4 linked regions of the Homo sapiens genome follow. The protein of the gene in region 1 interacts with the protein of each later gene in a pairwise test. Each region holds a gene or a part of one and is shown in the gene's direction. Other genes may lie near its edges.

The links. The genes of interacting proteins can lie anywhere in the genome.
Region 2: the proteins of SFI1 (region 1) and LPXN interact in a two-hybrid assay, tested with the Homo sapiens proteins (one large-scale study listed by BioGRID).
Region 3: the proteins of SFI1 (region 1) and FAM131C interact in a two-hybrid assay, tested with the Homo sapiens proteins (one large-scale study listed by BioGRID).
Region 4: the proteins of SFI1 (region 1) and GCSH interact in a two-hybrid assay, tested with the Homo sapiens proteins (one large-scale study listed by BioGRID).

Annotation. Positions count from the first base shown.
Region 1 is NC_000022.11:31,503,036-31,506,535, forward strand, and holds part of SFI1 (protein SFI1 homolog), read left to right. Parts: intron 1-3,500. UniProt on the Homo sapiens protein: Plays a role in the dynamic structure of centrosome-associated contractile fibers via its interaction with CETN2.
Region 2 is NC_000011.10:58,555,357-58,558,856, reverse strand, and holds part of LPXN (leupaxin), read left to right. Parts: intron 1-3,500. UniProt on the Homo sapiens protein: Transcriptional coactivator for androgen receptor (AR) and serum response factor (SRF). Contributes to the regulation of cell adhesion, spreading and cell migration and acts as a negative regulator in integrin-mediated cell adhesion events.
Region 3 is NC_000001.11:16,067,152-16,070,651, reverse strand, and holds part of FAM131C (protein FAM131C), read left to right. Parts: intron 1-3,500.
Region 4 is NC_000016.10:81,086,396-81,089,895, reverse strand, and holds part of GCSH (glycine cleavage system H protein, mitochondrial precursor), read left to right. Parts: intron 1-2,231; coding exon 2,232-2,295; intron 2,296-3,500. UniProt on the Homo sapiens protein: The glycine cleavage system catalyzes the degradation of glycine. The H protein (GCSH) shuttles the methylamine group of glycine from the P protein (GLDC) to the T protein (GCST).

The DNA of each region.
Region 1 (3,500 bases):
CAAAGCGAGACTCTGTCTCAAAAAAAAAAAAAAAAAAAGGTGTAACTGAGAAATTAGTTGGAAGCTCCTTGTGTCTGAGCAGGACTTGTGAGTTCAGGGGCTTCACTTTAGGGTAATCTAGGGACAAGTCTGCTTTTTCATTGATGGAGAGTAAGGCACAGGTCTCAGAATCTGGAGATGTGTTAGTTTTTATTGTTTTCTGAGAAGACTTTTCCAGTCTCCTGCCTGAGAGGTACCATCTAGCTACCAGAATTTTGGAAGCGGGACAGCAGAAGTGGCGTGAATACCCTGTCTGACAGGGTTGGAATTCTGTGTGGTCCACTTTCCTTTGGTATCCACTCTGAAGTTTTTCATTTCCTCAAACCTGTTAGGCCACTTCATTTTCCTTTCTTGTAAAACCTGTGGAAATCCCTCATGTCCTATAATCGCTTCTGTCATCTCTTTAACCTTATGGTTCGTTCCTTTGTATTCTTTGCTGCCACCTTAGAAGGTCAATCTACATGTTTAACTGGGAGTCAACACCTAATAATTTTTGTTTTTCTTGGACTGTTTTTTTTTTTTTTTTTTTTGAGATGGAGTTTCGCTCTTGTTGCCCAGGCTGGAGTACAGTGGTGCGATCTTGGCTCACTGCAACCTCCGCCTCCTAGGTACAAGTGATTCTCTTGTTTCAGCCTCCCAAGTAGCTCGGATTACAGGCATTCGCCACCATGCCAATTTTTTTTTTTTTTTTTTAAGTAGAGACAGGGTTTCACCACGTTAGTCAGGCTGGTGGCGACCTCCTGACCTCAGGTGATCCACCTGCTTCGGCCTCCCAAAGTTCTAGGATTACAGGCATGCGCCACTGTCCTCGGCCATGTTTTGTATTTGATTATCATTATATTCATTATATTCCAACTTATAAGCAAGTTTATATTCATACATGTCCTTATTGAAAGCAAACCTGTGTCCTAGTTTTTCCAGTATATGTGTATTTTATCTGTGAGGTTACAGACGTTGTTTTAGAGGCTGGAGATAGAATGGAGAGAAGATCAGATGTGATTCCTGTTTCCATGGAATTTATATTTTAGTGGGGAAGGCAGACATGTACAAATAGGTAGAATGCTGGTATAGAGTATATAACAGAAGGGAGTCCTTGACCATGAAGGACATTCCACAGGATCATTATGACAGAAACCCAAGGCGGTGACACATTGATTATAGCAGTATTTCACGAAAAATCACTATTTGAATACTCCATTTGATTTATTTATAGAAATAATCACTTATGATGACCTCTGTTACTTGGAGTGTAGTATCAGAAAAACTAGGACATCGGTTTGATGTAAGTAAGGATTATTCGTTTTGTATGGATAAACTGGCTAATTCCTTGTCTGATTGTCATTGAAATATGTGACCTTGATTATAAGGGTGACTTCATTCTTTTAGAATGAAACAACTTGTAAATGCATCACCGTTACTCAACACAGGATGTGTTCACCCTGTTAGCTTGCCTCCACCATTTACTTAAATCTTACTCTTCTGTCTTACTACTTGTATTAGTTTCCTAGGGCTGCTGTAACAAAGTACCACAAACCGGGTGGCTTAAAACTAATAGAAGTTTATTCTTTCACAGTTTTAGAGGCTAGAAGTCTGAAATCAAGGTGTCATCCTCTCCCTGAAGGCTCAGGGGAGAATCTGTTCCATGCCTTTCTCTTAGCTTCTGATGTTGCCAGCAATCTTTGGCAATTCTTGTAGATACATCACTCTAGTCTCTGCCTCTGTCATCACATTGCATTCTCCTCTTTATGTGTATCTGTCCCTGTATCTCTTCTCTTTTAAGAAAGACACAAATCGTGTTGGATTATGGGCCCACCCTACTCCCATGTGACCTCATCTTAACTTACATCTTAATTACTTCTGCAAAGACCCTGTTTTCAGATAATGTCACATTCGCAGGTAGCAGGGGTGAGGATTTCAGCAAATCTTTTTTGGGGAACACAATTCAACCCACAACACTGCTATTCCTGGCACTAAAAGAAAAATAGTAATAATAATAATAATTTAAAAAACTATGCCATAATTTATTCAGTTCCTAATGAATATTTTTGATACAAATTATCACCAATTGAAAATGAAAAATGGGCTCAGGCACAGTGGCTCACGCCTATAATCCCAGCACTTTGGGAGGCCGAGGTGGGCAGATCATTTAAGGTCAGGAGTTTAAGACCAGCCTGGCCAACATGGGGAAACCCCATCTCTACTAAAAATACAAAAAGTAGCCAGTTGTGGTGGTGCATTCCTGTAATCCCAGCTACATGGGAGGCTGAAGCAGGAGAATCGGTTGAACCCGGGAAGTGGAGGTTGCAGTGAGCCTAGATTGCACCACTGCATTCCAGCCTGGGCAACAGAGCGAGACTGTCTCGGAAAAAAAGAAAAAGAAAAAGAAAAAATGAAAACTAGGCAAGGTGCAGTGGTGCCTGTCTGTAGTCCCAGCTACTTGGGAGGCCGAGACAGGAGAATTGCTTGAGGCCAGGAGTTTGAGATTACAGTCAGCTATGAGAACACCACTGCACTCCAGCCTGAGTGACAGAGTGAGACCCTATCTCTACACACAAAAAAAGGCACTTTGGGAGGCTAAGGTGGATAGATCAGTTGAGCTCAGGAGTTTGAGACCAGCCTGAGCAATATAGCAAGACCCTGTCTCTACAAATAATAAAAAATAAGCTGAGCATGGTGGCACATACCTGTGGTCCCAGCTACTTGGGAGGCTATGGTGAGAGGACTGCTTGAGCATGGGAGGTTGAGGCTGCAGTGAGCCGTGATGGTGCCGCAGTACTTCAGCCTGGATAATAACATGAGACCCTGGGTGACAGCGTGAGAAAGAAAAAAGGCCAGGCATGGTGGCTCATGCCTGTAATCGTAACACTTTGGGAGGCTGAGGTGGGAGGATCACCTGAGCCTGAGGAGGTCGAGGCTGCAGTGAGCTGCGATTGCACTGCTGCATTCCAGCCTGGGTGACAGAGGGAAATCCTGTCTTTTTTTTTTTTTTTTCTGAGACAGAGTCTTGCTCTGTTGCCCAGGCTGCAGTGCAGTGGTGTGATCTCGGTTCACTGCAACCTGCCTCACGGGTTCAAGTGATTCTTCTGCCTCAGCCTCCTGAGTAGCTGGGATTGCAGGTGCCCACCACCATGCCTGGCTCATTTTTGTACTTTTAGTAGAGATGGAGTTTTCCCATGTTGGGCAGGCTGGTCTTGAACTCCTGACTTCAGGTGATCTGCCCGACTCAGCCTCCCAAAGGGCTGGGATTACAGGCGTGAGCCACTGTGCCTGGCCAGAAATTCTGTCTTTAAAAAAAAGAAAAGAAAGAAAATGAAAACTACACACAGTAACACTGATAACCATAAAAATTAATCTGAGGAAAAATAAGAAATCTTGGCCTCTACTGGTGTTTTTGTGAAGGGAAGTTGAAGGTGCTGAAGCATCTAGACATGAAGAAAGAACCAGGCACAACTTCTGAGTGT
Region 2 (3,500 bases), on another chromosome or scaffold:
AAATTGTAAAATATATTCTTCATTTTTCTATTATCTTTACATTTAAAAATATTGATATCTATCTTTAATTTGTCTCAAATTTATTCATGTATTTGGTGTGTTGGGGATCCATATTTATTTTGTACCAAATAGGTTGTTATTCTTTGAGTCGAATAGTCTGTTTTGGATGATTTGAAATGCCCCATTGCTCATATAGGAAGTTCTTTTAGGTGCAGGAGCCTGTTTCTGGGTTTTCTAATCTACTCCTTTGACCTATTTGTTTTTCTTTTTCTTCTTCCTTTCCTTTCTTCTCTTTTTTTTTTTTTTTTTTTTTTTTGACAGGGTCTCATTCTGCTTCTGTTGTCCAGGCTGGCATGCAGTAGTGTGATCACAACTCACTGCAGCCTTGGCCTCCTGGGCCAAAGTGATCCTCCTGCCCCAGCCTCCTGAGTAGCTGAGACGACAGATGTGTGCTACCACATCTGGCTGATTTTTAAATTTTTGTAGAGACAGGGTCTCCCTATGTTGCCCAGGCTGGTCTTAAACTCCTGGGTTCAAGCAGTCCTCCTGCCTCAGCTTCCCAAAGGGATCACAGGTATGAACGATCGCACCCAGCCCTATCTTCTTTACCAACATCATACAAATTTAATTATTGTTACTCTATAAGACACCACATCTATCAAGACAAATCTTCCCTCCTGTTTTTTTTTTTCTTTACAACTTTTAATTTTTATAGAGACCAGGTCTCTCTCATGTTTCCCAGGTTGTTCGCAACTCCAGGTCCCAAGTGATTCTCTTACCTGGACCTCCCAAAGTGCTGGGACCACAGGTGTGAGACACCACACACCCCTCCTATTTTGTTTTTCCAAAATTGTCTTGAGTGTTCTATCCCATAAATGTTAACATCATCTTATTAATTAGCTTGAATAATTATATCAGAATTTTTATTTGAATTACATTGAATTTACAGTTTAGGGGAAACTGACATAATATTTATCTTCATTTATATAGGCTTTCTTTTCTAAAAATAAATTTTATTGTGCATATTTAAGGTGTACAATATTATGTTATGGGTTATGAATAGTTAGTAAAATGGTTACTATAGTGAGGCAAATTAACATATTTATTATCTCACACAGTTACACATTTTTGTTTGTTTGTTTTTGTGGCAAGAACAGCCAAAATTTACTCTTGCAACAGGAATCCTAAATACGATACAATTTCATTACCGATAGTTCTTATGTTGTACATTAGATCTCTAGGCTTGTTCATCTTACATATCTGCTACTTCATATTCTCTAACCTACATGTCCCCATTTTCACCCCCTTTCCTGCCTCTCATCACCAGTGTATCTACATATTTGACCTTTTTAAATGACAAAAGAGGATTCCACCTATAAGTGAGATCATGCAATATGTTTCTTTCTTATTTAACTTGGTATAATGTCCTTCCAATTCATCAATGCTATGACAAATAGCAGAATCTCCTTTTTTTAAGGCTCACTAATATTCTGTTGTGTATGTGTGCATATTTCACAATTTCTTTATTCCATTGGTGTCCATCCATTGATGGACACTTAAGTTGTTTCCACCTCTTGGCTATTGTGAATTGTGAATATTGTGGCAATGAACATACGAGTGCAGAGATCTTTACGAAGTGGTAATTCCATTTATTTTGTGTATGCCCAGAAGAAGGATTCCTGTGTCATGTGGTATTTCTATTTTTAATTCCTTTAGAAACCTGCATATTATTTTCTGTAATGGCTGTAACAATCTACATTCCCACCAACAGTGTATAAAGGTTCTTTTTTCTCCATACCCTGGCCAACATTTGCCATCTTTTGACTTTTTGAGAATAGCCATCTGTTTGTGAGTGGTATCTCATAATAGTTTGATTTGCATTTCCCTGATGATTAATGGTGTTGAATACCTTTTCATATACCTTTTGGCCATTTTTATTTCTTCTTTGGAAAAATATCTATTCAGGTCCTTTGCTCATTGTTTAATTGGATATGTGGATCTTCCTTTATGTCTGCCAATGGTTTTTCTTCATAGAATTCTTACACATTTCTTGTTAAATATATTATTTGATATTTTACAACTTTTGTTAGAATTGTGAACAGGTTCTTTTTTTCGCATTGGATTTTCAAACTGCTTATTGATGATCAATAAGAAAGAGACTGTTTCATTTCATTCTTGTATCTAATCACCACCCTGATCTTTTTTATTCATTCCAATGGTTGTTCAGTCATTTATCTTACATTTTCCTGGGAAATTATTATACCATCTATTTTAAAAGAAAGACTGAGGATGTGCTGCCTTTTTTTCAAATATATAATTCTCTTATTTTACTTTTAAATGTGTTTGATAATGTATTCTAGAATAATGTTGAAGATTGCCAGTGATAATAGGATCTATGTCCAACTTATCTCTTAATTAGATATCTGCTTAATAATTATGAGGCTTGCTATATATTTCTTATGGAAACATTTTATCAGTTTATAGACTTTTTCTTATTTTTCTTGATATTCAACAACAGGAATGGTTGTTAAATGTCTTCCACGGCTTTTTCAGCACATATCATTGTGTTTATAAAGCTTTTCTCCTATTTGTTAATGAATTATATTAATCTTTTTCCTAATTTTGAATTTCAAACTATTTTTGGATAACCAGTATAAACACCACCTAGCCATGACTTGTTAAAATTTTTTATGTTTTTTAAAAAAAACACATTTCAACTGATTTTATTTAACCTTCTCTCTTCACACATGCACATCGTTTTTTCTTTGATTTTAAAAAGTTTCTGTGCTATTTATAGAATGAATTAGGTAATGTTCCATATTTTTCTATGTATTTGGGAATTTTATACAATGATCCCCCAAAAACTGTCAGTTTTTGTTTTATTTCTTGTTTTCTGTTTCACTAATTTATGCATTTATTCCTTCTGTTGAATTATTTTAGATTTTTCTGAGACTCTTGACTTGGAAGTTTTATTTATTTCTGATCTTTCTCACTTTTTAATATCACACTTAAGTCTATTTATATATTTTCTTCTCAATAACATTTAGCTTTCAACTCCCAAAGGCGTGTGTGTGTGTGTGTGTGTGTGCATGTGTGTGAGTGTGTGTGTGTGTGTGTTTTCATTGCTATTTCTAACTGGTTTGAAAATTCAGTTTAATTTTTTTATCCCAAGAATTATTTAGAAGTGCTTTGTTTTTTCTTAAGTGGATAGTTTTTATGATTAATTTGTACTTCTATTCACTCCAATCTAAGAATATGGTCTATATGATGTACTTTTAAAAATTTATTGAGCTTTACTTTGTATCTTCATACATAGTTAATTTTACTAATGTTTATGCAGCTACTTGAATAGAATCTGTATTCTGTTTATTGGGTCCAAAGTTTTATTTATTTATAATTTACTTACAATTATATGAATATGAAATCATCATCATATATATTATCTAAACTTTCTGCACCAGAGATTTGCAAACTTGTTCTGTAAAGAGGCAGATAGTAAG
Region 3 (3,500 bases), on another chromosome or scaffold:
ATTTTAATATTGTATATATTATAATAGAGACAGGCTCTCACTATGTTGCCCAGGCTTATCTCGAACTCCTGGCCTCAAGCCACCCTCCCACCTCGGCCTCCCAAAGTGCTGGGATTACAGGTGTGAGCCACTGCACCCGGCCTTTAATTTTTATTACCTGTCTGTGCAGACAGCTAATGTGGGCCTTCATGGCTGGAAGGGGAAACCTACAGAGGTTTTAAGCCACATCCTGCCTCATGGGAAAGGCAGCGGGTGGCAGGCACTCGAGGTGCTGAGGACATTGAGAAAGTGATTGGGACCAGATTAAGGCAACAAATGCTGTTTCCAGGAGCTATTTTGCATTCATTATCTATTTTTAAGCTACCGTTTGTTGAGCGCTTATCCTGAGCTAGGCTGAGCCTTTGCTCTCCTGACCTAGTTAGTTCTCATTCAACCCTGTGACAAGGGATGTGGGGCTCAGAGAACGGGAGGGTCTTCCCTCAGGTCACATGGCCAGGGCATGGAGAGGCAGGACTTGAATCCAGGTCAATGTGACCCCAGAGCCTGAGTGTGGAAACCCCGTCCTTTGCTTTCTTACGTCCCTATAGAGAGAGAGGTGCTATGGCTCACGCTTATAATCTAAATACTGGGAGGCTGAGGCGGGAGGATCGCTTGAGCCCACGAGTTCAAGACCAGCCTGTGCAACATAGTGAGACCCCATCTCTACAAAAAACTTTTTAAAAATTACCTAGCTGTGGTGGTGTGTGCTGGTAGTCCCAGCTATTTGGGAGGCTGAGGCAGGAGGATGGCTTGAACCCAGGAGGTCGAAGCTGCAGTGAGCTGTGATTACTCCACCGCACTCTAGCCTGGGCAACAAAGACCCTGTCTCAAAAACAAAAAGAGGTGCTAAGTATATGGCCAGTGCTTAGAAAAACAACCTCTTGGAACACTTGAATGGTCCCTATTTGTTGGGGGCTCTGCAACCAATGGCAGTCTGTATGGAACAGAGAGGAATATTTGCCCCCCTTCTCTCCAGTTCCAGGGGCTCAGTACCCGCTCCATGCCCTTGGTGCCATAACCACTCTGCCTCCTCACTCATGCCCCAGCCCTCTCCTCCAGGCCAACTGATCAGCCTCCTGGCCCCACCTTGGGGGTATCCAATGCACTGGGGGCCGGTGGGGTCGGGGGTGAGAGTAGAAATTAGAGACCGAGAATTTTCTTCTGGAAACTCAGACATCTGATCATGTCTGGGTGAAGGCACAAGCTCTAAGGGGGCCGACCAGAGCCACCCATAGTTTCCAAGTCCTGAGCAGTCCTACACCAGGCACTGAGGAAAGGGTAGGTGGGACCTTGCCCTTCGGGAGCTCACAGTCTGATGAGAGAGGTACAGCTTTGCCCGTGGAGTAGCCTAATGGGGGAGGCAGTATGCATGAACCCTTGGAAGGATGCCCCGAGGACCCTGTCTGGAGATCAGCACTGTTTAGTGGTTGGGGCACAAGCTTTGGAGTTTCACAAGGGCCGAAGTGTGACCCTCATCTCTGCTGCTTATTAGCAGGTGACCTTGCATAAGTGATTTATCCTCTCTGAGCCTCCGTTTCCCTATCTGTAAAATGGGCATAACATGTACTTTGCAGGATTGTTGTGTGGGTTAAATGAGAGATCATGGGTGAACAGGCCTAGGACAGACAGTACCTGACACAGTACTGTCACACCTGCTCAGTAAACAGTGGCGGCAAATCACTGCAGGCCAGACTTTGGCCATTAGGACCACAGGTGAGGTACCTAATCCAGCAGAGGCCAATCTGGGCAGGTTGCTTGTGGGAGGTGAGGCTGGAGCAAGATGTTCCCAGAGGCCAGGTCACAGGATGGGAGGGAGCCTGGGGAAGGAAGTGGGGAGGAGCTGGGGTGTGTGGAAGTCCTGGGGAGGAGCCCATTTTCTCTCTCCATCCTTGCACGGGGAGAGAAAGGGACCCCCTTGGATAGCTCTGAGCTGAGCCAACCCACAGATGAGCTATTGTCACGGCTCAGGTGACCTGTAAACAAATGTCCTGGGGAGGAGGGGACACTCAGTCCACTCGAGGCCTGGCCTCTGCCAAGCTCTGTGGCCTGCTCCCCTGGCAGTGACTCAACAGGCAGAGCGGCCAAGGACTCACCCTCAAGGGCTTCCCTCTGCGGAGCCTCCAGAGCCAGCTCCAGCCCTGGGGACAGGACCAGAGGAGTGGCTGACCAAGATGTGTCCCATTGTCCAGAGAGAGACACTGAGGGGAGAGGGGTGGAGCGGCTGCTGCTTACGGACTGCTTGCTGTGGCAGGTGCTTCCTCCTTGCTGCAGCCCTTTCTGGGCTGGTATTATTTCACAGATGAGAATCCAAGGCTCACAGGGGCTAAGTCCCATGCCCACCCCCTGCAGCGGAAAGTGAGAAGCGGGGACTTAAACCCAGCTCAGGGACCGTAAGAGGAATGCCTTGGCCGCTTACGTTCTCTTCAGAGCCAAGGGCAGAGCCCGGCACATCACAGCTGGGCAGTACACACCCGGGCAATGGTTGGCTAGAGGGGCCGCATCGGCTGCAGGTGCCCTGAGAAGCTGAGCAGAGAAGCCCGAGGCTGGCCGGGGAGGAGCATGAGGGGACGCTTTGACCCCAGGCTGCTGCTCAGTTTCTGTGTGGTTTTGAGAGGATATTTACCCTCCCTGGGCTGCTGCAGAGTCAAACACGGTCCCTCTCTGCCCTCTGGGGTGCAGAGCCCTGGGAGGCACTCTTGGGGTAGATGGCAACCATGGTGACTAATGGGTTGGGACACGGAGCCCCAGAGAACAGCTTAAAGGAGTTGGAAGGCCCTGAAGCAGACGAGAGGAGCCTGAGGGGTTGTGCTGCAGACTCACCCAAGGATCAAGTAGAGAAGACCAACCAGTATGGGAACTGCAACAAGAGGGGTTTAGGCTAGACATCAGGAGGAACTGTCTGGGAGGTTAGACTCTAAAGCAGATTGAAGAGGAGCTGGCATAGGAAGGCAGGAAGCACCCTCAAGATGCAGAGGAGAAGCTCTGGTTGAAGACAGAGGGATGGAGGAGACATCTGGTTGACACCCTCTCCTTGAAGAATCAAGATGGCCCTCTCCAGGTTGCCATGGCAGCCAGAAGCCTGTCACTCTTGTGGACAGAGGAGGTGGGGGAGGGAGCAGGTCTGAGAAGGGAATTCTGACCTTGAGGTCAGGAGACTAGGGTGTGGACTGAAAGAAAGGGGGTGTCCTTCTGGGAGAGGGAGCCACAGGAGCAGGTGCTAGCGGTCCCTTCGGGCTGCCTCCCAGCCCCCACCCCACATGACACTCTGTGTTTTTCCAGTTGCCAGTGGTGACGTGACCACCAGTCCCAGCTGGGCGAAGAACAGCCTGTGATTTCACCCTGGGCTGGTTCATTACCTGACGTCCCCATGGCAACCAGCCTGTGACATCATGGGGCCAAAGTCCTCAGGGGGAGCAGGCAGCTTTGGTGGAGGCACCTGAACCCCAACTGAGGTGGGGAGC
Region 4 (3,500 bases), on another chromosome or scaffold:
TTGTGGGTCCAGTGATACACACGTGACCAGGAGGACGGGAAGAAAGAAAACCTCAATAGGCACAGATGACACAAAGGGAAGGCTTTTATTCAGCCCATCTTTTCTCTGTAAATTCCCCTCAATTCCATATGGCGATACTGTTTAAGAGAAAATGAGAAGCCAAATCCTAGCGTGTTCAGTGATTTTCAACTGGATGTATGTATTGGGTGAGGCGGGGAAGGGGGGATGTTAACTGATGGGAATGCACTCGTGTCACTTAATGATGGAGCTATGTTCTGATAACTGCCTCCTCGGGGATTGCGTCCTTCTGTGAGCCTCCTAGGGTGCCCTTACACACACCTAGATGGTACAGCCTATTACACACCTTGGCTGTATGGTACAGCCTTTGCTCCTGGGCTACAAACCTGTACAGCATGTTACTGTACTGAATACTGTAGGCAATCGTAACACACTTGGCCTATCAAAACACAGAAAAGGTACAGTAAAAATATGGCATAGGTTGAGCATCTCTAATCCCTGAAATACTCCAAAAATCTGAAACTTTTTGAGCACCAACGTGACTCTTAAAGAAAATGCTCATTGGAGCGTTTTGGATTCCAGAATCTTGGATGAGGAGTGCTCATGTATTAAGTATAATGCGAGTATTCCAAAATCTGAAATCCAAAACACTTCTGCTCCCAAGCATTTTGGACAAGTGATACTAACTATATTATAATTTCATGGGACCACTGTCATATATGTGGTCTGTTGTTGACCAAAATGCCATTAGGCGGCACGTGACTGTACAAAATTCCTCAGACATGTAAGATGCTTGTGTGTTGATAATCACAATTATATCTTCCTTGGCATCTCTGTATACCTACTATGAGGCCCAGTGTTGGATAGTTTTTGAGATGTTGTGTAAGATGTCGTCCTTACCTCCTAGAGTTTATTTGTGAGGGGAATTACCTACATGAGAATGACTTGCAAACATTACATGATGGCATCGGAACGGTGGGGTTGTAATTCACTTACCTGATGGAGAGACCACTTCTTTCTGGAGTCAGGGACTTCAGGGAGTACAAGGTGTGAGGACTATGATTTGTAGAATCAGTGAGCAGGATTTCAGCAAATGCTTTGGGGGCAATGGTGTACATAAAACTACAGAGGTGGAAGAACACCAAATATGTTCATGCCCAGAAGAGCTAGCAGTGTTTGCCGGGCGCAGTGGCTCACACCTGTAATCCTAGCACTTTGGAAGGCCGAGGCAAGTTGATTATCTGAGGTCAAAAGTTCAAGACCAGCTGGCCAACATGGTGAAACTGCATCTCTAGCAAAAAATTTTAAAAAATTAACCAGGCATGGTGGTGGGCACCTGTAATCCCAGCTACTTGGGAGGCTGAGGCAGGAGAATCGCTTGAACCTGGGAGGCAGAGGTTGCAGTGAGCTGAGATCAGGCCACTGCACTCCAGCCTGGGCAACAAGAGAGAAACTCTGTCTCAAAACCAAATAAAACAAAGAGCTAGCAGTCTTGTGTGGGGCAGGAGGCTTGTGTTAGGTTGCTAAAGCCTGTGAGCCAGATCTGGCTGGCGGCTGGTCTCTTGCAGCTCCTGAGTTGAGAATAGTTTTTTAAAATCATTTTATTTTACTTAGTTTTGGAGAACAGGGTCTTGCTATATTGCCAAGGCAGGTCTCAAACTCCTGGGCTCAAGCTATCCTCCCACCTCTGCCTCCCTAAGAGCTGGGATTACAGGCATGAGCCACCGCACCCAGCCATTTATTTTTATTCTTGACATGGAGTCTTGCTCTGTCGCCAAGGCTGGAGTATACAGGTGCAATCTCAACTCACTGCAACCTCTGCCTCCCAGATTTAAGTGATTCTCCTGCCTCAGCCTCCTGAGTAGCTGGGATTGCAAGTGCCTGCCACCACACCCAGCTAATTTTTGTATTTTTATTAGAGACTGGGTTTCACCATGTCAACCAGGCTGGTCTCGAACTTCTGACCTCATGTGATAACACCCACTTTGGGCCTTTCAAAGTGCTGGGATTACAGGCGTGAACTACCACACCTGACTGAGAGTAGTTTTTACATGTTTAAAGGATTTTAAGGAAAACTCAAGAATGTAGCCCCTCCAGTATAAAATATATACTAAATCTTCATTATAGGGGATTCAGTGTTTGGCTTATTCTGTTTACTGGAGGGTTTAGTTATAACTTCTTAGAGATTTTTGGTTTTGTCTTGTTTTATTTAGGAAGCGTTGGGAGATGTTGTTTATTGTAGTCTCCCTGAAGTTGGGACAAAATTGAACAAACAAGGTGAGTGTTCTTAGGATCTTAGAATGATCCATGCCATGAATTTTGTTTACATTGAATAGTAATTTGTTTGTACCCTGGATTAATTAGAGTGCTTTTTTTTTTTTGGAGACAGTCTTGCTTTGTCACCCAGGCTGGAGTGCAGTGGCACCATCTCGGCCCACTGTAACCTCTGCCTCCTGGGTTAAAGCGATTCTTGTGTCTCAGGCACGTGCCACCACGCCCAGCTAATTTTTGTATTGTAGAGACAGAGTTTCCCCATGTTGGCAAGGCTGGTCTCGAACTCCTGACCTCGAGTGATCCGCCCGCCTTGGCCTCCCAAAATGCTGAGATTACAAGTGTGAGCCACCGTGCCCAGCCAATTAGAGTGCTTTTGACCCAAGTATTAGGTTGGTGTAAAAGTAATTGCTACTCAGAGGCTGAGACAGGAGAATTGCTGGAACTTGGGAGGCGGAGGTTGCAGTGAGCCGAGATCCCATCACTGTACTCCAGCCTGGGCAACAGAGCAAGACTCCGTTTTAAAAAAAAGAGAGAAAAAAAGTCTATTAATATCGATATGTTAGATAATATCCTTAAACTAATGAATACCCTTTTAAGACATTCTGCTAAAGGTAGTTTTTTAACTTGATGTAAAATCTACATACAGTGAAATGCATGGACCAGAAGTGTACAATTCAGTGAGTTTTAACAAATGTATACACTTAAATAAACCTTCCTAGTCAAATAGATGACCTCTTCTCTCGTTTCTACACCATAGGTTTATTTTGCCTATTCTTTATATGAAAGGAATCACACAGTGTGTGTTACGTTTGGCTGCTTTTGGGATTTACCAAGCTTCTTGAATCTGTAGATTGAATTTTTTTTCGATTAAATTTGGAGACTTCTTATTTTAGTCATGATTTCTTTCTCTTCCCACTTCATTCCTTTTTCCTTCTCTGATTTGAGACATGTTCGTCATATCACTTGATATTGTCCTATAGGGTCCCTAAGACTGTTAACTTTTCAGCCTTTTTTAAACTGTTCTTTTTTTTTTCTTCTTATTTTTTTGAGACGGAGTCTTGCTCTGTTGCCCAGGCTGGAATGCGATGGTGCGACATTGGCTCACTGCAACCTCCGCCTCCTAGGTTCAAGCAATTCTCCTTTTTCAGCCACCCAAGTAGCTGGGAGTACAGGCATGCACAACCACACCAGGCTAATTTTTTAAATTA